Regions from separate parts of the Homo sapiens genome. Here region 2 is linked to region 1. The links come from fine-mapping of genetic effects on gene expression. A gene starts in region 1. The other region holds a variant in brackets. All regions are shown on one strand. Distances are between the middles of the regions. Region 1 holds the start of PTER (phosphotriesterase related). Region 2 overlaps PTER (phosphotriesterase related).

The links. PIP is the estimated chance that this variant, and not a neighbour inherited with it, causes the effect.
Region 2: its variant is fine-mapped to the expression of PTER in skeletal muscle (GTEx, PIP 0.91). The same link has a PIP of 0.9 or more in whole blood.

What each region holds. Positions count from the first base shown.
Region 1 is chr10:16,431,678-16,442,221 of GRCh38, forward strand. It overlaps PTER (phosphotriesterase related), which reads left to right and starts at 5,333. Exons shown (of 5, transcript NM_001261836.2): 1 at 5,333-5,370. RefSeq lists a silencer at 5,208-5,257 and enhancers at 5,678-5,857, 5,878-5,927.
Region 2 is chr10:16,509,517-16,520,060 of GRCh38, forward strand. It overlaps PTER (phosphotriesterase related), which reads left to right. Exons shown (of 5, transcript NM_001261836.2): 5 at 1,530-4,229. The coding sequence ends at 1,740. C1QL3 (complement C1q like 3) reads right to left here. Exons shown (of 2, transcript NM_001010908.2): 2 at 4,218-5,191. The coding sequence ends at 5,012. Among named protein-coding and RNA genes, the nearest start is that of C1QL3, 7.1 kb to the right of the region's middle. RefSeq lists enhancers at 9,913-10,413, 10,414-10,544. The variant AG/A (reference allele first, on the strand shown) is at 3,972.

The DNA.
Region 1 (10,544 bases):
ATGGTGAAACCCCCGTCTCTACTAAAAATACAAAAATTAGCTGGGCATGGTGGTGCATGCCTGTAGTCCCAGCTACTCAGGAGGCTGAGCAGGAAAATCACTTGAACCCGGGAGGCGGAGGTTGCAGTGAGCCGATACTGCCCTCCAGCCTGGCGACAGAGAGAGACTCCATCTCAAAAAAAAAAAAAAAAAGATCTAGAATGATTTAAATTTCACTTTTCCTTTGCTTCTAAGTGAAGTAATAATATACATTGAATACTTAGTTGTATTTTCTGGGGGGTACAAAGAATAGGAATTTGATAGAAAACGATCTGTGTGTTCAAAGTTCTGTTCTAGTTCTCTTGTGACATTAGTATCTAATAGGTGTCCTATAAATGATAGGAATGGCTTATCACACCATGACTCAAAATTAAACCAAGAAAATCTCTGCAGCACTGTAAATTTCAGCTTCCAATTAACAATTAAAACCTAACAGCAACATCATTGATAGAATTGACATCATAGGTCCTGCTTTTTTTTCCTGCTGCTTATCTGATAATTATCTGGATTATTTTCTATTTTGCCCTCCCCAGATTGTTTCTGTAGACTACTTTTGTGTAAATATTTAAAACAACTAACTAGGGTGATGAAAACCTGGGTGTTTTCTAGAATTTTAACCCAAATAGCAGGGGCTTTGGATGTTTGCTTTTGATTTCGTTCTTTTTGCCAATTTAGTGTTCCCGGGTACAGGTACTGTCAAAATTCAAAGATACTATGAAAAGGAAAAGCAAGTACTGTAGAAATGAGAGTGCATTTGAACTAAACCTTTAACTGAGAGATCGATTTGGAAACTCGGTTCCTTAATAATGTGATTTTCAACTTTGCTACTTCATCACAGACATACGACAGTACATTGATATTCTTGGTTTCAAAAATTATTTCCAAGTTAAGCTTCTCTAGGAAGAAAGACTGAAAAATAAAGTTGGGCACAAGCTTGATGCCAGATTATCATGTTTAACAGCAGAACATCCTCAAGAACCCTTTTCACCCATTCTTGTCTGCCTATCCCAGGGCTAGTAGATTTTGAGTCCGGTAGTGAAGAATGTTTATTTTACTTTCTAAAAGATTCAGTAGCATTTAGTGTTTAACTAACAACAGTGCTTAGTGAAATAGGATTACAGTATGTACACAGGTGCTATATGCTAAAAAGTTTTCCATTCTTGTGCATTGGATTTACATGATTTTCTCCACTGTTCTTTGTTTGTTTGTGTTTGTTTGTTTTTGTTTTTGCTTTTTGAGATGGAGTCTCGCTGTACCTCCCAGGCTGGAGTGCAGTGGCACGATCTCGGCTCACTGCAATCTCCACCTCCCAGGTTTAATCTATTTTCCTGCCTCAGCCTCCTGAGTAGCTGAGACTACAGGTGCACGGCATGACCTTTGGCTAATTTTTGTTTTGTTTTGTTTTGTTTTTTGAGATGGAGTTTCGCTCTGTTGCCCAGCCTGGAGTGCAGTGGCGTGATCTTGGCGCAATACATCCTCTGCCTCCCGGGTTTAAGCAATTCTCTGCCTTAGCCTCCCGAGTAGCTGGGATTACAGGCACCCACCACCACACCTAGCTAGTTTTGTGTGTGTGGGTGTGTGTGTGTATGTTTTTTAGTAGAGACAGGGTTTCACCATCTTGGCCAGGCTGATCTGGAACTCCTGACCTTGTGATGCACCCGTCTCGGCCTCCCAAAATGCTGGGATTACAGGCATGAGCCACTGCACCTGGCCTGTTTTTTTTGTTTGTTTGTTTTTTTAGGGAAGATAGGTTTTCACCATGTTGGCCAGGCTGGTCTCAAACTCCTGGCCTCAAGGGATCTGCTACCCTGGCCTCCCAAATTGTTGGGATTACAGACGTGAGCCACAACACCTGGCCTCTGCCTTTCTTTGAACACACCTGTAGGCAATAGTTTGAGAAAGTTCCTGAAATAAATCTCCTGCATATTAATTTGAAATTTCTTTGTAGCTGCTTCTTTCAAAAAAGAAATAAAATCTCTTTACTAGTATCTTTTTAAGGAGTAAAGCCACAGAAATAAGAGCGTGCATTTGAAATCCATCACAAATCTTGCTCAGTGGATTTACTGTGGGCAGTGGAGAATTTAGTAACTTCCATAAAGAAAAACTAAAGTTTACTTTTCAATTTTTTTTTTTTTTGAGACAGGGTCTCTCTCTGTCACTAGGTTGAAGTGCACTGGCATGATCTCAGCTCACTGCAATCTCCACCTCCCAGGTTCAAGCAATTCTCATGCCTCAGCCTCCTGAGTGGCTGGGACTACGGGCATGCACCACCACACCCGGCTAATTTTTGTATTTTTAGTAGAGATGGGGTTTTACCATGTTGGCCAGGCTGGTCTCCAATTCCTGGCCTCAAGTGATCTGCCCACCTTGGCCTCCCAAAGTGGTGGGACTACAGGCGTGAGCCACTGCGCCTGGCCTGAAGTCATTTTTTAACAAGGACCTCATGTATCATTTAACATCTAGCAGCATAGACTACTAAAATACGTAACATTATAAATAATGGACTTTCGAGCCTCTCCTTACCACCCACTGTCGGGTACACATTTATATGGCTCCATGCTTGTAGCACACACAAAGTGGGAGCCAGCACTGAAATCACTCCAGAAGCCTCCCTGGATCCATCTCCTCATTACAGAATCTCAGTGTGAGCCCGTCATTGCTACTAATATCCAACTGTCCCAGCACTCATGCCTCTGCAGTTCTTAACCCCTACAGTTATTCTTGTCTTTCCTACTCTTGGGCCCTATTTTTATCCCTTTTCTGTTTCTAGGATTTACCCAGCCACCCTCCTTAAGAACCAATTTTTTCCTCAGTATCTTCTCCCTGACTGTCCCTTACCAACCAACCCCTTTTCTAAATGACTTCTTGTACTTTTACCCTTAAAAAACAAAAAACAGAGAACGAGACCTGTATATCCTTTTCTCCTCCTTTTTTTCTGATTTAAATGAATTAATTTATTTCTATTAATCTCCTATCAAAGCACCCCATTCTCTCCTGGTGCGGTGGCTCACGCCTGTAATCCCAGCACTTTGGGAGGTCAAGGCAGGTGGATCAGTTGAGGTCAGGAGTTCGAGACCAACCTGGCCAGCATGGCAAAACCTCATGTCTACTAAAATTACACAAAATTAGCTGAGCATGGTGGGGCGTGCCTGTAATCCCAGCTACTCAGGAGGCTGAGGCAGGAGAATCCCTTGAAACCAGGAGGTGGAGGCTGCAGTGAGGTGAGATTGCACCACTGCACTCCAGCCTGGGCAACAGAGCAAGACTCTGTCTCAAAAACAAACAAACAAACAAACCAAAAAAATTCCCCATTCTTTACTAAGAAGGCAAGTGTAGTGACTGATATCAACTAATCTGGGTCCCTAGTCCTATCCTTGAACAAGGTGCTTGCCTAAGTTTGTTTTCTTGTCTGTAATTGGAGGGAAATAGCTCCTGCCACATGCAGGTTGCTCAAAATCTTAAACAAAATAACATACACCCATTACAAAACCTGGTAGAGTTGGCCCCGATAAACATCATCTATTAATATTATTATTAAAACTCTACTTTCCTTTGAAATGACATCTGTAGCTTCTGCCCATCTGCATACCTATTCTCTTTTTTCTCAGAATTCAGGATAAAATTAATTGACTAGGCCTTGTGCTGTGGCTTATGCATGTAGTCCTAACACTTTGGGAGGCTGAGGTGGGAGGATCCTTTGAGCTTAGGAGTTTGAGACCAGGCTGGGCATCATAGCGAGACCTCCATCTCTACAAAAATTACAAATATTAGCTGAGTGTGGTGGTGCACACCTGTAGTCCCAGCTGCTCAGGAGGCTGAGGCAGGAGGATCCCTTGAGCCCAGGAGTTCAAGGCTGCAGTGAGCTATGACTGCACCACTGAAATCCATCCTGGGCAACAGAGCCATTTCAAAATAATAATAATAATAATTGATGACAGTGTAATATGGTTGGGGTTCAGAAAATGATACCCCAAAATGAAGGCCTTAGAAGCAGCTCTCTCTAACCTCATGTCCTCCTGCCTCTGGCCCCTCATTCTAGAAACTGGAATCCCTCTTCCCCAAGGTGATTCACAGAAGCCAGAACCCCTCATCCCCAAAGCCAAGCATAAAACCTAAAAGTTTGACTCTGCGTGTCCCCTGCCTTTCTGTGTCAAAACTGGCGGTAAAGAAATTCTCTGCCCTGCTTTGTTTGACTGTAGGTCATAAGACCCCCATTCCAGAAAGGATCCTGCTCTATACCCAGAAGGAAGGAACACTGCACAGAAAAGCCAAAAAGAATCTAAACAGACAGGGCTTGCTCACTTAGTCTATTGGCATTAGCTCAGACCCTTTTTATGCCATCGTAGTATCTCTTAGGTTGGTGCAGAAGTAATTGCGGTTTTTGCCATTAAAAACCGCAATTACTTTTGCACCAGCTGAATACATGGCGGTCCATACTTTATTGAACCTAAGCGAAAAAATGGACCGTTTCCCCTGCATCTTTGGGTTTTCATTCTGAAGGCTCCCGGATCACATAAAGTTACGATCTAGTATATTTGTATGCCTTTTCTACTGTGAAACTGTCTTTTGTCAGTTGATTTTCAGCAAACTTTCAGAGGACGAAGGAGAGGTTTGCCCTTGGCCCCCTACAATACCTAAAGGTATGACTCTTTACTGTGGCAGCTGCTCCAAGCATCATGTTTTGCCAACAGACTCACACATACTAAGTTTATTTCAGTCACAGCAAGTACCAGGGCCAGTTCAAGTGCTCTAGCACGGCACTCTAATTCTAAAGAGAAGGAAACGCGGCACCGGGGCAGGAAACAGTGACAAGTGGGAACACAAAAACCAAAGTTCTCCGTATGCAGCATGAGGATCCAGAACCCACTGTGACATCAAATTGCCAGAGCACCACCTCCGATTTATTCTTGGGGAAAACCAAAAGAGCTACGGAATGCTCCCTTGTTCCAGACTGTTCTATGGAGAACTGGGATCTGGGGAAAATGCAACAGTTTCTTTCCGTTTGGGGATCTAGCCCCGAATTTTTTTCATTCAGCCAAACTACCGACAGTCAGACAGCGCCTGCAGGAGGGTGTGGCCAGGCAAAAACGCGGGGAACGGCCCCGGACCAGGGTGGGGCGTGGCAAGGGTTTGAAGGGCGTGTCCTACGAAGAGGTAGGGCTTGGCAAGGACCCACGGGGCGTGTCCTAGGACTCGGTGAGGGCGTGACCTCGGGCCAGGGGCGGGGAGAGAACCAGAGGGCGAAGTGGGAGGGCACAGGGGAGACTAAAAAGGCCAGGGAAGTTGGCCTGCCGGAAGTTCCCAGGGAGAAGGCAGCGCGTTGTACCCGAGGTAAGGCTTCTTGGAGTCAGAGCAGGAGCCGGAACTGTGGGCCCAGTAGGAAGAGTGGGGCCCGACGGCGGAGGCCGCGCGGCCAGGGTTCGCTGCAGAGCTCCACGCGAGGGTCCTGCCGGAAGGAAGGATTTTCTAGCCGCTGCGCTTGGGCCCTGCCGCCTCTCCTTAAGTGCTTGAGGGACGTTGCAAAGAGCGCCAGTCCCGTGTGGCGCCAGCTCCCTGTGGCTCGACAGCAATGCCCGGGGGCGTCATCGGGTAGCTGTGCTAAGCCTCCTTTAATAAGCTTTTTTTTTTTTTTTTTTTTAGATTCAGGGTCTGGCTCTGCTTCCCAGGCTAGAGTGCATTTGGCGCGATCACAGCTCACTGCAGCCTCGACCTCCTGAGCTCAAGCGAACTTCCTGCCTCAGCCTCCTGAGCTTCCTGAGTAGCTGCGACTACAGGCACGTGCCACCATGTCCGGTTATTTTTGTATTTTTTGTAGAGAGTGTCTCGCCATGTTGCCCAGGCTGGTTTCGAACTCCTGGGCTCAATCAGTCTGCTGCCTCGGCCTCCCAAAGTGCTGGCATTACAGGTCTATATTTTTTGACAGTTTATAAAAGCCAATTACCAGCGGTCATATGTCTGAGTCCTGTGCACTCTTGCTTAATCCACTCTGCAGCCCTGTGAAGGATTCTAGTGATAACGACAAAGCTAAGGTACAGAAAAATTAGGCCACACTGCTGGAAAGTTTAGAGATGGAAACAAAGTTTAGAGGTGGAGTCTTTCTGACTCCACAGCCAGTGTGCTGTTACTCTCTTAGACTACCTCATTCTTTGTACATCCCAAGTCAACAGGAACTAAAGGTATACCCTTACATAGGCAGTAAGAGGGGTTGCTGATTTAAAGAACTTTGGACCCAGAAAGAGTAGAGCCCTATTCTAGTTCTGGTTCCAGCTCAGTGACTTTCTACAAGTTGGTTTTCTTTTGCTTTTTTTAAAGACAGAGTCTCGCCCTTGCCCAGGCTGGAGTGCAGTGGTGCGATCTCGGCTCACTGCAACCTCCGCCTCCCGGGATCAAGCGATTCTCTTGCCTCAGCCTTCTGAGTGGCTGGGACTACAGGCGCGCTCCACCACACACAGCTAATTTTTGTATTTTTAGTAGAGACGGGGTTTCACCATACTGGCCAGGCTGATCTCGAACTCCTGACCTTGTGATTCACCCACCTCGGCCTCCTAAAGTGCTGGGATTACAGGCGTAAGCCACCGCGCCCGGCCTCTTGCTTTTTAAGACTAGGTCTCATTATTTCACCAAAGCTGGAGTGCAGTGGTGCTATCACAGCTCACTGCAACCTTCACTTCCCCCGTTCAAGTGATCCTCCCAGCTCAGTCTCCCACAGGTGCACACCACCACGCCCGGCTAGTTTTTATTTTCTGTTTTTTGTTTTTTTTTTTGTATTTTTGGTAGAGACGGGGTTTTGCCATTTTGTCCAGGTTGGTGTCAAACTCCTGGGCTCAAATGATCTGGCTGCCTCGGCCTCCCAAAGTGCTAGGATTACAGGCGTGAGCCACTGCGCCTGGCCTGCCTGTTTTCTAGACACATTAAGGTGAGTGGTCTCAGGCCAGGCGCGGTGGCTCACACCTGTAATCCCGGCACTTTGGGAGGCTGAGGCAGGTGGATCACTTGAGGCCAGGAGTTCGAGACCAGCCTGGCCAACATGTGAAACCTCTTTTCTTCAAAAAATTAGCTGGGCATGGTGGTGGGCATGCCTGTAATCCCAGCTACTGGAGAGGCTGAGGCACGAGAATTGCTTGAACCTGGGAGGCAGAGGCGGCTGTGAGCTGAGATCACACCACTGCACTCCAGCCTGGGTGTCAGAGCAAGACTCTGTCTCAAAAAAAAAAAAAAAAAAGGTAAGTGGTCTCTAGGTCGCTAGTGGATGTAATAATCTATGGATTTATGAGGATAAGATCCTGATTTTACCATTTAATGATATTTTGGGCCAGTTTTTTTCCTTTTTAATTGGGCAGCCCTCAAACCAGAATAGATTGAGAGGGTCTTCCAGTTTTGGGTCATATTTGCTGCTGAAATTACAAGGTAGTCAGGAAGGGTCTGTTTATTCAATCAAAGATCAATAAATGTGTATTTTGGAGGTCAGTAGCGGAGTATCCAGCCAGAAGGTGGCTAGTGAGACAGGAGGAAAATCAGGACAGTGGCTTTTCTGGAGGGACTTAGGGAAAGATCAGTTTCACTGGGCAAATTTCCCCTTCCCTGTGAAGGACAGAAAATACCTTCAATATGGCTAAAGTGAGAAGCATTTCTGAAAAAAAATGCAATTTAATATCCTTTGAAGTGTCAGTAAATTTTGAGCCAAATAGAAGCAGAGAGTAAGAGAACACAAAAATAGATCATTTAGAATCTGGAGAAGTACATGACCGTGTACTCAGTGCCAGGACTTGGCCATAGGATCCCTGTGACTATTTTAAGTTGAGTAAGCAGCCCTGATGCAAGAATTTTAGAGATTGTCTCAGTTTTAAGCTTAAAGACAAAATGATGAACTGTATAGCATGAGAGGAGCTTGGTAAATGTCCACCTTTGCTTCCATGTGCAAAGTGTTCATACAGGACATACATACATACAGGACCCATTCATACAGGAGGAATGTTTATCCTTAAATATCTTCTTTTTAAAATATTTATTAGTTTATTTATTTTTGTAGAGATGGGGGGTCTTGTTTTGTTGCCCAGGCTGGTCTTAAACTCCTGGGCTCAAGTGATCTTCCCACCTCGGCCTCCCAAACTGTTGAGATTACAGGCGTGAGCCACGGCAGCCAGCCAACTTCAAATCTATTAAATGCCCTAGTAAGCCATATAGTAATAATATTGAGAATTTCTGATCAAGCTCGAGTCTGCTCAGTATCCCTATGAACTTGACTGAGGTAGTTGTTGAATATATTTTCATACATCAAATGTGGCTTTGTTCTGTTTTCTTTAGCTGTTGTTTCTAGTGTATTTTCAGTGGTCCAGGTTTTCCTAACAAGATTTTTTTTTTTTTTTTGTGGCAGGGTCTCACTCTATTGCCCAGACTGGAGTGCAGTGGCCCTATCTTGACTCACTGCAACCTCTGCCTCCCAGGTTTAAGTGATTCTCCTGCATCAGCCTCCCAACTAGCTGGAAATATAGGCATGCACCACCACGCCCAGCTAATTTTTTTGTATTTTTGGTAGAGACGGGGTTTCATCATGTTGATCAGGCTGCTCTTGAACTCCTGACCTCAGGTGATCCACCTGCCTCAGCCTCCCGGCATGAGCCACCACGCCCGGCCCTTAATAACACTTTTATAACAAAAGGCTTCTCATTCATAGACATCATCTCTTAAAAAAAAGAAAAAGAAAAAAGAATAAGAAAAATAAAATATCTGGTTCCATTTGGCATAAACTGGCTCTGTGGTTGTACCTATTTTGTCAAAACAATAACCACCTGAGTACAAATACCTCTGTGCCTGCTCAGCGTGAGAGCTGTGAATGTTAGCCATTTCCCTGTCTCCTTCCAGGCAGGTATGTCCACGTGACTTGTTTGGCTAACGAAACGCAAGTGGAGTGACCTGTGTCACTTCCAGGTAAAACTGTGTTAAAAGCCAGTGAAAGATTTGTCACAATCACTTTCCCTCTGCCGCAGTGACCATCCAGATAGAGGCAGTGGTCTCAGCCTGGGTCATAGAGGACAGTGAGCGGAGCCCCCTGCCTTCCTGTGTTAGACGTATTCGATGAGCTAGAAATAAACTTTTGTTGTGGTCAGACCCTGAGATTCGGGGATTTGAGTGTTACTGTGGCCTAGCCTGGTCAAGCCTGCGTAATGAATATTATCAGATAAGCTGCATGTATGCGGGGATTTCTGGCTCTGGTTTACCAGATACCTTGGGAGCTGTGGGGAGGGCCCTGAAAGAGGCTTGTCCTATGAATCATGCTCCTTTTACTGTGTGGGAGATGGCAGGTGTGCTGTTCCCATCATGCTCCAGTCTGCTTTGTGATTTTAATCAAGAGTGGCAAAAATGGCGTTTAGATGTTTAATTGCATTCTGTAAGGGCAGACCATGTTAAAGTGTAAAATAGGTAAAGGCTGTATGCCTGGAAGGGATAAGAATCAAGGCTTTCATTTTTACTTTGAAAAACACAATTTATATATTTTTAACAATTTTCAGTGCACTTCCAAGTTTTCCAATACAGAGGAATGTTCGTGGGTGAGTTGTGAAAAGATGATTCTTCCCAAATGCAGTTATCAGTGGATACATTTCAGAAATTATTTTGTCACTGAAGGACATTTGAAATGAATCATCCGTACTTACCATTGACTAATACGTTTTTTTTCAGGCAGCTTCAAAGAGTATTTTAAATATGATTTCCTGGCTATCTGATTTCGGATCTAAGAGTATCAGACTTAGGTTTTGCTGTTAATGTCCTAGGGGCAGTGTGTTCACTCTTTTATTCTGAGTTAAACAGAAGGCAAGCCGGGAGCATTGTGCTTTGGACAGAGCTGTGCTGCATTCTTAGGGGACACTGGCTATAAATCCAGTCTCCCTAGAGGTTAACAATCAAAGTTCTCCCCTTATTATAGTCAGGCGAGTGATATGATGATGATAAATTGCTTGGACGTGACTGGCCCAAGCACTAGTGTGATGAATTATGTTGTTCGGGGCATGACCGAAGATCTTCTATTGTCAGCTGGCAATGCTAAGTATTGGCAGTATTCATAAATAGCCTTTTGCCAATGGTGGTCTCTGCTTTACATATTAAATTCTCTGTTTTCACAGGTTGTGGTTCTTAGTCATCTGTGTCCTCCACTGAATTCACTTACATAATCAGCCTTTTTTTTTTTCCTGTTCCCTACTTATTAAACGGGTGGGATGTGCTCACTTGTGTATGGTAAACACTGAGTTCTTTCTTCACAGAAACTGTTAAAAGAGTAATTATTAGTTCTTTTTACTAAATCCAGAGTAATAGCAACTTATCTTGCAGTGGCTTAATTGGGTAATTATTTGGTGTGTGAAGAGCACTTTGAAGAGAATATTGGTAAATATTGTTAATTTCGTGCTCTTTTATGTAACTGAAAGCCCATTGCGACCACAAAATCCTTGGTGTTACTGTGTACCCACAAAATTTCTTTCCTGATGTGGCTTACTATTTTCCAAATTATTTGT
Region 2 (10,544 bases), 78 kb after region 1:
GAAAATGCCCAGAAAATATCAGGGAGAAAGTGTTTCCTAAAACCTCCTATACCGTGATACTTCTTTGCAGTTGTGGATCAAGGTTTGTCACCCTAAGCTTCAGTATTGTGTGTGCATTCTGTCAAATCTTTGTCTTTTTATGTGATAATATAACTTATCTTAGATAATTCCCCTAAACTGAGTGTGTTCCAAAAGTAACTGCAGATCAGAACTTCAGGATAGTATACAAATTTCAATGAGGCAAAAAATCATAGTGGCACAAAAGTCATTACATGCACTTATAGGACAGGCATGGTTCTTCTCTGCTAGTGCTTGCATTCCTTTGACCTGCAGATACAAAGTCTATTCTTCCATTATAATTTATTTTAAAATATGTGTTCTCAGAGGGCAGGGCTTTGTGCTTGAGTTTTTTTTGTGTGTGTAGTACCCCACGTTTTGCTCACTGTAGTAGTTATTAAATATGACTCATGTACTAGGACACCAAGAAATGCTTTTGAAACAAAAAAGATACCTTTCAAATAATCAGCCTCTGGAGGAAGGCACTGTCCGTCCGTCTAGATCCACTTTAGAATCTAGACGCCAAAAAAACTATTCAGAGAATCCCATAGAAGAGCCATTGTCTGTGAGTGGCATCTTCTACCATCAAAGACCCATGGAAGTCACGACAGACACTGCCCAGAGTCCAGACACGTACAGATGGTGGCTGTCAGGAGGTGACTCACACTACAGATTCCAGCATTTAACAAAGCAAAGAGGATTTCATTTTTAGAGAATAGTCAGGAAGCTGTTCTTTAGTCCACTGACTATAAATTTAAAGGAACAGCTTATTATTTTAGCAATCTTGCTGACATGGAAAGAAGACAGAATATATTTGTATTGGTCAGTTTAATCCAATGCTCAGAGGCTACAACTAAATCAAAATTGCCATAGACTTCAAAGGGGCAAATGGTTAAAATGCTGACCAACCTTTTTTCAGTGGCTTTGTAGCTTATCAAATGCCCCTCACTTGCAGACCAACTGATTTTGCTCTCAGAATATTTTACTTGTAGTGAGATTCCTTTTGTTTCCCTATTTTAATCGCAAACAGTCCTTGATATTTTTTGGCCAGATAAAAGGAGAGAGCAAGAATGAGATCTGAAAAATGGGCCCACAGGGAGAGGCATTTGAGAGAGGATTGCTGAATACAAATCCAGAACAAAGTTATTTAGTGAAATGCCAAAATGGTCATTCATCCAAACTGGCACATCCTATTAGAAGCTATCTTTAATGCGGTATTGCCAGGCATGGTCATAAATGTCACAGGTTAGAAATTTCTGTATGCATGGAATAAGGATATGTTCCTGCTAGGATGCAGCAATATTTTTATCGTCACCACACAATATTTATTAAAGGTCTCTCAGTACACACGCCACAGTAGAAGTCAGTATCTTTACGACAAGCACAATAGGTTAATGAGTAAAAAGTTGAAAGCATCCTGAAAAGCGAAAATGAAAGACAAATGACATCTAATGAGTTAACATTTTTCACAGGGTGCGTCTCCTGGTGGAAGAGGGCTGTGAAGATCGAATTCTGGTAGCACATGACATACATACGAAAACCCGGCTGATGAAATATGGAGGTCACGGCTATTCTCATATACTCACCAATGTTGTTCCTAAAATGTTGCTGAGAGGCATAACTGAGAATGTGCTTGATAAGATTCTAATAGAGAACCCTAAGCAATGGCTAACTTTCAAATAGGATGGTTGCTTATGAATTCACACCTTGAGTATAAAACTTGCAGAGAACATTCAGCGATTTCCAGTCCACTGTGAGATATTAATCAGTTACCTAGGACTAATGACAGATCATTTCCTTCTGATGAGAACTAGGAGGGTTTGCCTTCTCTGAGACCAGCTATTACAACTGTGCCTCTAGGGAGTTACTCAGCCTAATTGAGCCCTATTATTTTAACTTAACAAAATAAATACAGAAGTACCTATTTCTAAACAATGATTTAAAGTCTATATCCCCTAAGCGGAGTTGTTGTTTTTCTCCCTAATCTATCAGCTGCACTACTTGAGAAAATTTAAAGTGTTTCTAGTTAAATTATTTCCTTCTTGAGCGATCTAATGTTTCTTGTAATATTGATGATCCTACTAATTATCCTGCTGTTCTTTAATTAATGCTTAATGAATAATATGGCACTGTAAAATAGCTTCTGCAACAAGGGAAGTTAAATTTTGAGACTTTTTTCCCCAAAGGATACTGACTGTAATACAATTACCAATTCACAATGATAAAAATATTTTGAAAGGTTAATTTTATACTGTCCACCTATCTATATATTCTTCTACTGAAATGATTTTGATATCTTTGGCTTTCCGGTATCTATTTTTGCCATACATTTTGCTGTTTTGCAAAGTTTGTATAAGAACACATAACACTACTGAATTATAAAAATTCAATCATAAAAGTCAAAATATATTACATAATATAGTTTAATGAATCATTACATTTATAATAACAAAGGCCACAATTTAATTAATTGGTAAGATATAATGCAAAAAAAAAAAGAGAAATGTTTGCCTTATGTATATTCCCTTTATTTCCTTTACCTTTTGTTTTTCCTTGGACCTAAACAGAGAAAATAATGCTTATGTATCTGAAGAAAAGGTCAGATCTATTGGAAATGACAGCCCGATACTTGAGCCTCCTCTTTAAAAGGTATCCAGCCCTGATATTTTGTGTAAATAAAATGTTTTTAAAACCTGTTAGTTAAAACACTTAGGTGATGGGCACTGCTGCTTATAAATTCATCTTTTGGTTGAATCCTCACTATGCTATTTGGTACCTAAAAATATTCTCCAAACCCTTGCTGCCAGTTCCTCTTTGATAAATATATAGTTAATTCGAAATAAAATCCATTGCAATTCATTTATGAGTTATCTTACATATCACAAAGACCAATTAGAATTAGTCATTATTCTTGATGAAGAGTCTGTTTTTAATCATAAAAATCATGACAGTTACTCAGACCCAGGCATTTCAACAGAGCTAACACCACCTTCAGATAGGCACACCATGCATAACTCTTGGGAAGTTGAGCTTTGCTAAATAAAAGATATTTCTGCTGATCAAAGATGATCAAGCTTTCTGTGTATTGGAACAGAAAGTAACAAAGAGGAATGAGCCAGGAGAACAAACTAATTCCTTTAAATAAATAAAAAAAAAAAATGCAAATGTCCTTCACCAGTAAAGCAAGCAAATTTTTAAAATCTCTGTTTTTGAAATCTACTCGTCAAAGAGTTTTCAGAGGCAATGAAAGGGGAACAGATTTTTCATTGTAATAGTGGAAGTTGTGTGATAGTTAGGAGATATCAACATGCATTTTTAATCTTTTCCTTAGATGAAAGAGATGGCTTTTGGCAGTGTGTTCTAACCAGAAAGAAAGGATTTGTATTACTCTCCAAATCTACTGTACTGTCAGCTTCACTCCACCTGAGAAAAAAGAAAAAAAAATTGATAGCTCAAATGCATGTAATTCATAAACACTGCAAAGGAGAGCCACTTGGTGTCTGCAGTCCTCATATTAACAGTCTGTCACAGAATGCAGTTAAAGTATTGATTGGCATATGGTAATAGAGCAACCATAGCCTTAACTTACAGACCTGTGAAATAAAGGGCATTTTGACCTAATACAATTAATTTTCTGGATAACTCTTAAAGAGAAGTCATTTTAACTGTTTTTGCTACTCCATATATTGTCATTCAAAATATATTTTAACCCAAAATAAGTTAAATAATTTGTGCATGTTTGTGTGTGTATATATGCATACACTTTTTTATATTAAAATTTTGAGGCTATACAGCCACTGTGCCCTGTGGAATAAAGCCATATATATAAATGTTTTATATGTATATGTTTTATACATAAATAAAACATTTCATCTAATATATATATGTGTGTGTGAGTATATGTGTGCATGTTT[AG/A]CAGATATTTGTATAAAATATAAACACTCTGTTGTCATATAGGCTATATGCGAAATTGTTAATTTTAAAATAACCTCAGGCCACAGACTTGTAGTAATCATTTGAAGGCCTCACCTAGTGTCCCCTTGGTGACGTATGCAGCAGCTCAAATTAAACCTTTGTGCATTGGGTTATGAATAATCTTTTCTTCCAAAGATGGCAAAAGCCTCGGTTTGATTTGATACTAAAGAATAAATTTCTCTGACTTTCCCAGTGAATCTAAATGTATTCAGTTGACAAAATGGACACATAAGGGCTTTTTCTAAATACCGTACATAATTACACATTTTCACACTTAGAGGGTAATCCTATGATACACTGTCAATCTCTATTTTTAAAGACTATCACCAGAAAAGAGAGAAAAGAAAATTCATATAAGAAAAAGAAAATGTGAAAAAGATCATAGGCTTGGGAATTCCCTCAAATCCAGAAAATTCCAGGTTAAGGCTTGAAGTTGAATCATTCCCAGGTCTAGCTCTAAGGTTAACAAGAGTACAAGGCAAACAATTTCTTTGGGGACAAGCAGCATTATTTCAATTAGACCTTCTCCTGCAGGGCAAAAATCATTCTTCCCCACACTATGAATGGACTCCAAGTATCATAATAAGCAGGTAAACTCACAAGAACCAAAGCTGACATATGGATAAAAGCAGCAAGATCACAGTACACCAAAGTATCATATATATAGAAGAAATAATTCAATGTCTTAGATTTGTCTATAAAAATTTGTGATCTATATAGGACTTCATTCACATGGACACTAACGATAAGGAGTATTTGCTTTGGCGGTAGTGGATCACACATCTGCTTATCTTGCTTTGATATTTTTTACATAATGTTTCTGAGTGATACAGATGTGAGTCAGGTAGCATTTGATTTCCCCACATATACACAACTGAGGTGCCCTGCCATTGGCATCCCCTGGGATCCTTGATTCACTGACGTTAGCCATACGAATCCAGTGTTCAAACTCAGAATAATAAGCTTAGTTTCTGCATTATCAGTCAGCATAAATAATAAATCCAGAAAACGTGCTGTATTTGTTGTTGTTTCCTCCATGGGCTTTCCCGCCATCTAATTTGATATAGACTTCATCTCCCGGCTCCAAATGAAGAACCACACTGTTACTGGCATAGTCGTAATTCTGATCAGCATCTTGGGCAATTGCACTAGCACGCACCTATGTGAAACAGACAAGAATTAGGATGCGTAAATGAGAATTCTCAAGTTTTCTTTTTTGCCATTCATGTAGCATCACAAGCTGACTTGCTGCCATAGTACAGAATTTAGCATAGCAAAGTCCATGTTGACCTCAGAGCTTTATGAGGATAGTGCTGTGGCAGTTTCCGCTACGTTAGTGAGAAGGAGGACAGAAAGGGACAAAATAGTGCTTCAGTGGGGACCATTCTGGCAGTCTTATCTAACTACACATTCTAAACTATGCATACAATTTATTATCTTCCTGTATCACTCGTTTTTCTAACTCCTTCGATCCCTATGCCCAATCACATTTTGAAATGAAACTAATAGTATTTTTTGCATTTTAATTTAAGCCAGATAGCAATATTCTAATCAGCTGTTTATGAGTACAGAAGTTCAAGTCTAAGTTCAGCTGTTCACCACAATTATTAGAAAATTGAGGTATGTAATAGCTAAAAATACCCAGGAAAATACCAACTCCTCTACTACTTACAAAGAAAAAAAAAAAAAAGAAAAAGTCTTTTGATTTAGGGCTTTCCAAATCTAATTCATGTAAAGCCCCCTTTACCAGGCTGCTTCAGAAGCTTAGCTCATTTATACATCTTTGATTATATCACCTGAGTTTTCAGAGTTCTTTTTTCCATCGTGTCTTTTTATTACTTAACTATGACATGTGCATTTAAATCAAGAATTTAACCTCAACATATCTAAAAGTTAAAGAAAGGACTAAATTTTCATGCTCTGAGGCCTCTCAAGTTTCAAGAATTTTTGAATGATTTCGTTGAATATCCACTTACACTTAGGAGATTCTAAATATGTGGCTTGATTTGAGGGCAGAGGCTGCTTATAATCTGCCCATGGTAAGCCTGTGATCTCATTAGTGAGTTGATAGACATTTACAAACAGTCAAATTGCCTATCATCTCATGCATTGTGGACATTCTGTCAGATCCTTAGCTCAAATTAGGCTTCATATTCATTTAGATATATTGTGATTCTGCCTTGGAAAATCTTTCAACAGGCAGACTTAGATTTGATTTATTTCAGTAAAACATCTTCTACTTTGTGGCTTGTTTCATTTCTATTCCACTATAATGATATTTCCCTGAATAACATAGCAAGTGATTTAGTGGTTTTGTAAACCTGCACTATGTAATAATGCATGATTTGGGGTACAATATGCTGGATTTTATCACTTGGCAAAATGAGAGAAATGAGACAGAAGTCAAGAATTTCCATGCATTTCTTTCAAAATTTAAATGATGAGTTTTCCAATTAAATTTTCTTGTGATATAGTCTCACGTTAATGCTGAAATGTTAAAAAAAGAAGACTCTTTAACACTGCTGAACTTGTAAAGTCATTTGAGTAGTATCTTTAAAGTGTCTTTCTGGGTATCACATAGCAAAAGGAGAAAATGGCTTAAAGGATTTAGAATTGCTTAACGCTGTACTAACAGGCACTAATATAATGAAAGCAATATACCATGTAATTATGCTTGGAAGCACTGACTCCAATATATATGCCAATTTAGTAAAGTGGTCCGTTTTGACCATTAAATAATGACGCAGTTTGACTTCATAATATTTTCTAAAGATTAATCATGAGTTTGTAGGAGTTGAATGCTTTGATTCATTAATTTCATCTAGCCATTAATTCCCAGGGAAACAAATCTACAAGAAGGATATTGCTATTATGACTTGTGTTTTTTTCTCATCTTTGGATTTTTAATGGTGAAAAAAATTAAAAACAAAATATTCATGAGCTATATTAGTAATACATTAGTTATCAACCCATAATATACTCCTCAGCTATTACTAATAACCAGACATATTTTATTCAGTGCTTTGGGTATTTAGGACATGTTCTATGGTTACTGGGCTTTAACATGGTTTTCTACATGAAGGTATTGGAGAAACAGGACATACTAAAATTACTTGATTTAGACACAATAATCCTTTTAAAAATATAATGCCATTTTTATTCTCCAGGGTGTAACCACAAAACCGAGTGAACGTCACCATTTTTATTCAGTAGGCGTAACCACAAATTCCTGCGAATGCATTAGAGTGATTCCACAGACTGAAAGGTTACCCTCACAGTTTCTACCACCTTTGTTGGATCAAGCCAGTGTGGTTGCTTTTTAATGAATGTAATTCTGTAAGATTTTAACCTATACTGTACCGTAAGACTGTCCCAATTAAATAATTGCCATACTCCAGTGTACCTGGCATGATTTTGGTATGGCTGCTCACCTGATCCTACTCTAAAGATATAACAGGACTTGAAATTTCAAGCTCTAGTATTCAGCTCAGTGACTTCAACAATTCTTTCAAGCCATCAAACTATTGAGGAAGGCAATGTGTTCACCCTGGAGGCTGTTTCCAGATTCCTAAATGTACAGTGATTTCAGCATTCTGTCTGGGAATAAGATCCATCCTTCCTTCAGCGCAATCAACCGATTTCTACCTGAATTTACTCTAATATCTTTTCTTATTACAAGATAACTATTTAGATTCTGCTTTATGTTTAGTCCGTATTTCTTTAACCCTAAAAAGATTATGAATTTGACATGTCATTGATCTCTCTAATAAGCGAATACCAACCCACAAACCACTCATCCTTTTAAAAATATTTCATGGGCATCGGTGCCATAACTAATAAATTTTTAAGAGTACCAACTGGTCTTTAATTATTTTATGCTTTTAATCCTGAAACAGTATTAGTTTTCATTCGAGTGGCTTATTTATTATAGTGGCATTAGAGTGATTGTATTCAAATAGCAATTTTTCTTCATGTTTTCTGCTAAAAGGATTATCAACATTAAAGAGATTTCCTCTTTCCAAATGTAAAGCTATTTGAGTTGAACTTTTACCTTTAATATGCACTGTCATGGGCTTTCAACAAATGGTAGGATTAAATTTAGGTTGATGGCTTCATGGGGAGTATGAGAGCTGCGGTCATTTTAGGGATATGTTTCTGTGTCTGCAATAGGTTTCATAGTTTTAGCATTATCTTATTAGTGAGGATCTATCATTAGAGATCATATTTATGGTGACATTTGTAATTTAATTAATTGCTACTGATGTTCTCGTAATTTCATTTTCATTGTACTTCTGTGGAATCATAAACAAAAGGTTAAGTGGCACATCAGGTTAATTTACTGGTCTTTGATGTTTCCATCTGTGATCTTACATTCTACACAAAGTATAAATAAAATGGCTCTCATATGGTTACAGTCCAGAAGCATTTCTCTCTCTTAGAGGGAACTGCATTTTTAGTTTAATTTTTGTGCTTCTCAAAATCCACTTAATCCATAGAACATTACACTGACATGGATCTCTGAGTTTCTGTTTTATGAAAAATTAAGTCAGCTCAGAGAGGGAACCTGCCATTCTAAGAAGTGATCAGACCAGAATATAATTGAAAAGCAAGAGTGAAGTATTATTTAAAATTAATAAAAAGATTTTAAAAGATTTCTCATTTGTAACTGCCTGCAGACTGGACTTGACAAAATAGTTCTAATCTAGAGATAAAATTCCTTAACTGTAGTAGTGTAGTAACCATTTTCCAAAATAGTCCACACTGAACTAAAAAAAAATGTTTACCACTATAGATTTATTTTTCTGAATTACCTGTTGCATACCTTTTGCAGAAGTAGCAGCTTAATATTACCAATGAAAAGACTTATACATTATAAGGTCAGCTGTTTTACCTTACTATTTTTCCTGATCCTCATGGAATGTGTGTGCTAGTGTGATACAAAGGAAGATTTTACACCCCAAACAGTGAAATAATTTTAAAAACAAAACGCACATAGAACACCTACATGGTGTTATTTTCTTCAAATCAGTGTAATATACACAGGCTCAGCAGTCTAGACATCAACATTTAAACTAATTTAAATGTATTAATCCCTTCTTTTTTCATGCAATTGCAATTTCCAGATATTTAAAGATGTGAGCATTTTTACACATTTGCTGATAAAATTGGAATCATTTCATTTTAATTGATACCTCTAAAAATCATCTCTTCAGCCCGATTGTATTTTCCAGACCTGACCTTTGAGTCAGAAGAGAGCCAATTTGCAAATAAAGGGGTGTCTCATGGCTGCCTGCTGAGGGACTGTTCATAAGCCTTTTTGTGAGGGTGATTCAATAGCTCCATTCTGGTACAGTGAGTCCTGCCCGTTTTAGCCATTTGCCTATAACTGTTTTACTGTTCTGTGAATAATTTTTATTTATCTTAATATTATTTTCATGCATAATAACTATAATAAACAACCCTGTCAGTGCCTCCTGGTGGCCATTTTTCCTCTTTTTGTTATATGTGTCCTGAGGGTCCCTTAAGCTATTTGTAGGATAGGGTAGAGAATAGGACGTTTTTTGTCTTTTTTCTCTCTTACGCATTTAGGACTTTTTTTTTTTTTTTTTTGGTCTTTCACTTTTGAAAGAATTCTGACACTGAAGTAGGTCTTCCGAATCCTGCTTGAATGGTGCTTAACAGAAACCTGGGTTATAGCTAAGAATCTCTGAATGTCCAGGGGTCGAGTTACCTAAAGCCCAATAGACCTCGTTAAGTCAAAGTTGCTGCAGGAGAGGAGGTCTCTTGATGGCGATGCCAGGGTCGCGGGCCATCCCCTATGCCACTCAATAAGCAAAGTTAAAACCGAGAAACTCAGCCCACACCGCAGGCTGCAGGCTGCAAGGCCTCGCCTCAGTGGCTACTGATTCAGCGTGCACAGAAGGTCCCATTACACTTTTAGGTAGTTACAAATATTATTTTCCTCCTTTGACTAAGAGATCAAACAAGCTTCGGTTTTGCAATGACCTCGAATTTCTCCACAGTAAAGTGGCCCCAGCAGAATACTGCAGACCCATGCGTAGCCCTTGTAGCGGCGCCGACCGGCTCAGGGAATCAAATCCTCTTGGCCGGCTGGTCCAGAGGCCGATAGACCCGGGGCTGGGCTCGAACCGGTCGCCCCCCAGGCCACCTGCCTGAGCGTCCTCCGACTCCATAGAGAGTTTGGGTTCTGAGTCTGGCTGCGCGCTGTGTTTCACCGCATGAACCCCCGAATCTCAACTATTCTTTTTGTTATCAGCACTCCTTGCCTCTCCCCTCCGCTATTTTTTGGCTGAAGACGAAACTGGAGTTTGCGCCTTGAAATTGACTATATGTGAGTTTCACGGCCTGGGACACCGCAAGGACTCGGCGACGGCGAGCCCCACGGTCGCTCCTCCGCTGTGGCTGAGCCCTGCTTGGACTCATTCCTTCGGGGCCCTTGTTTCTCCCTCCGGCCTTTGTCTACCACCCCCGAGTCGGTCACCCTGCCACGC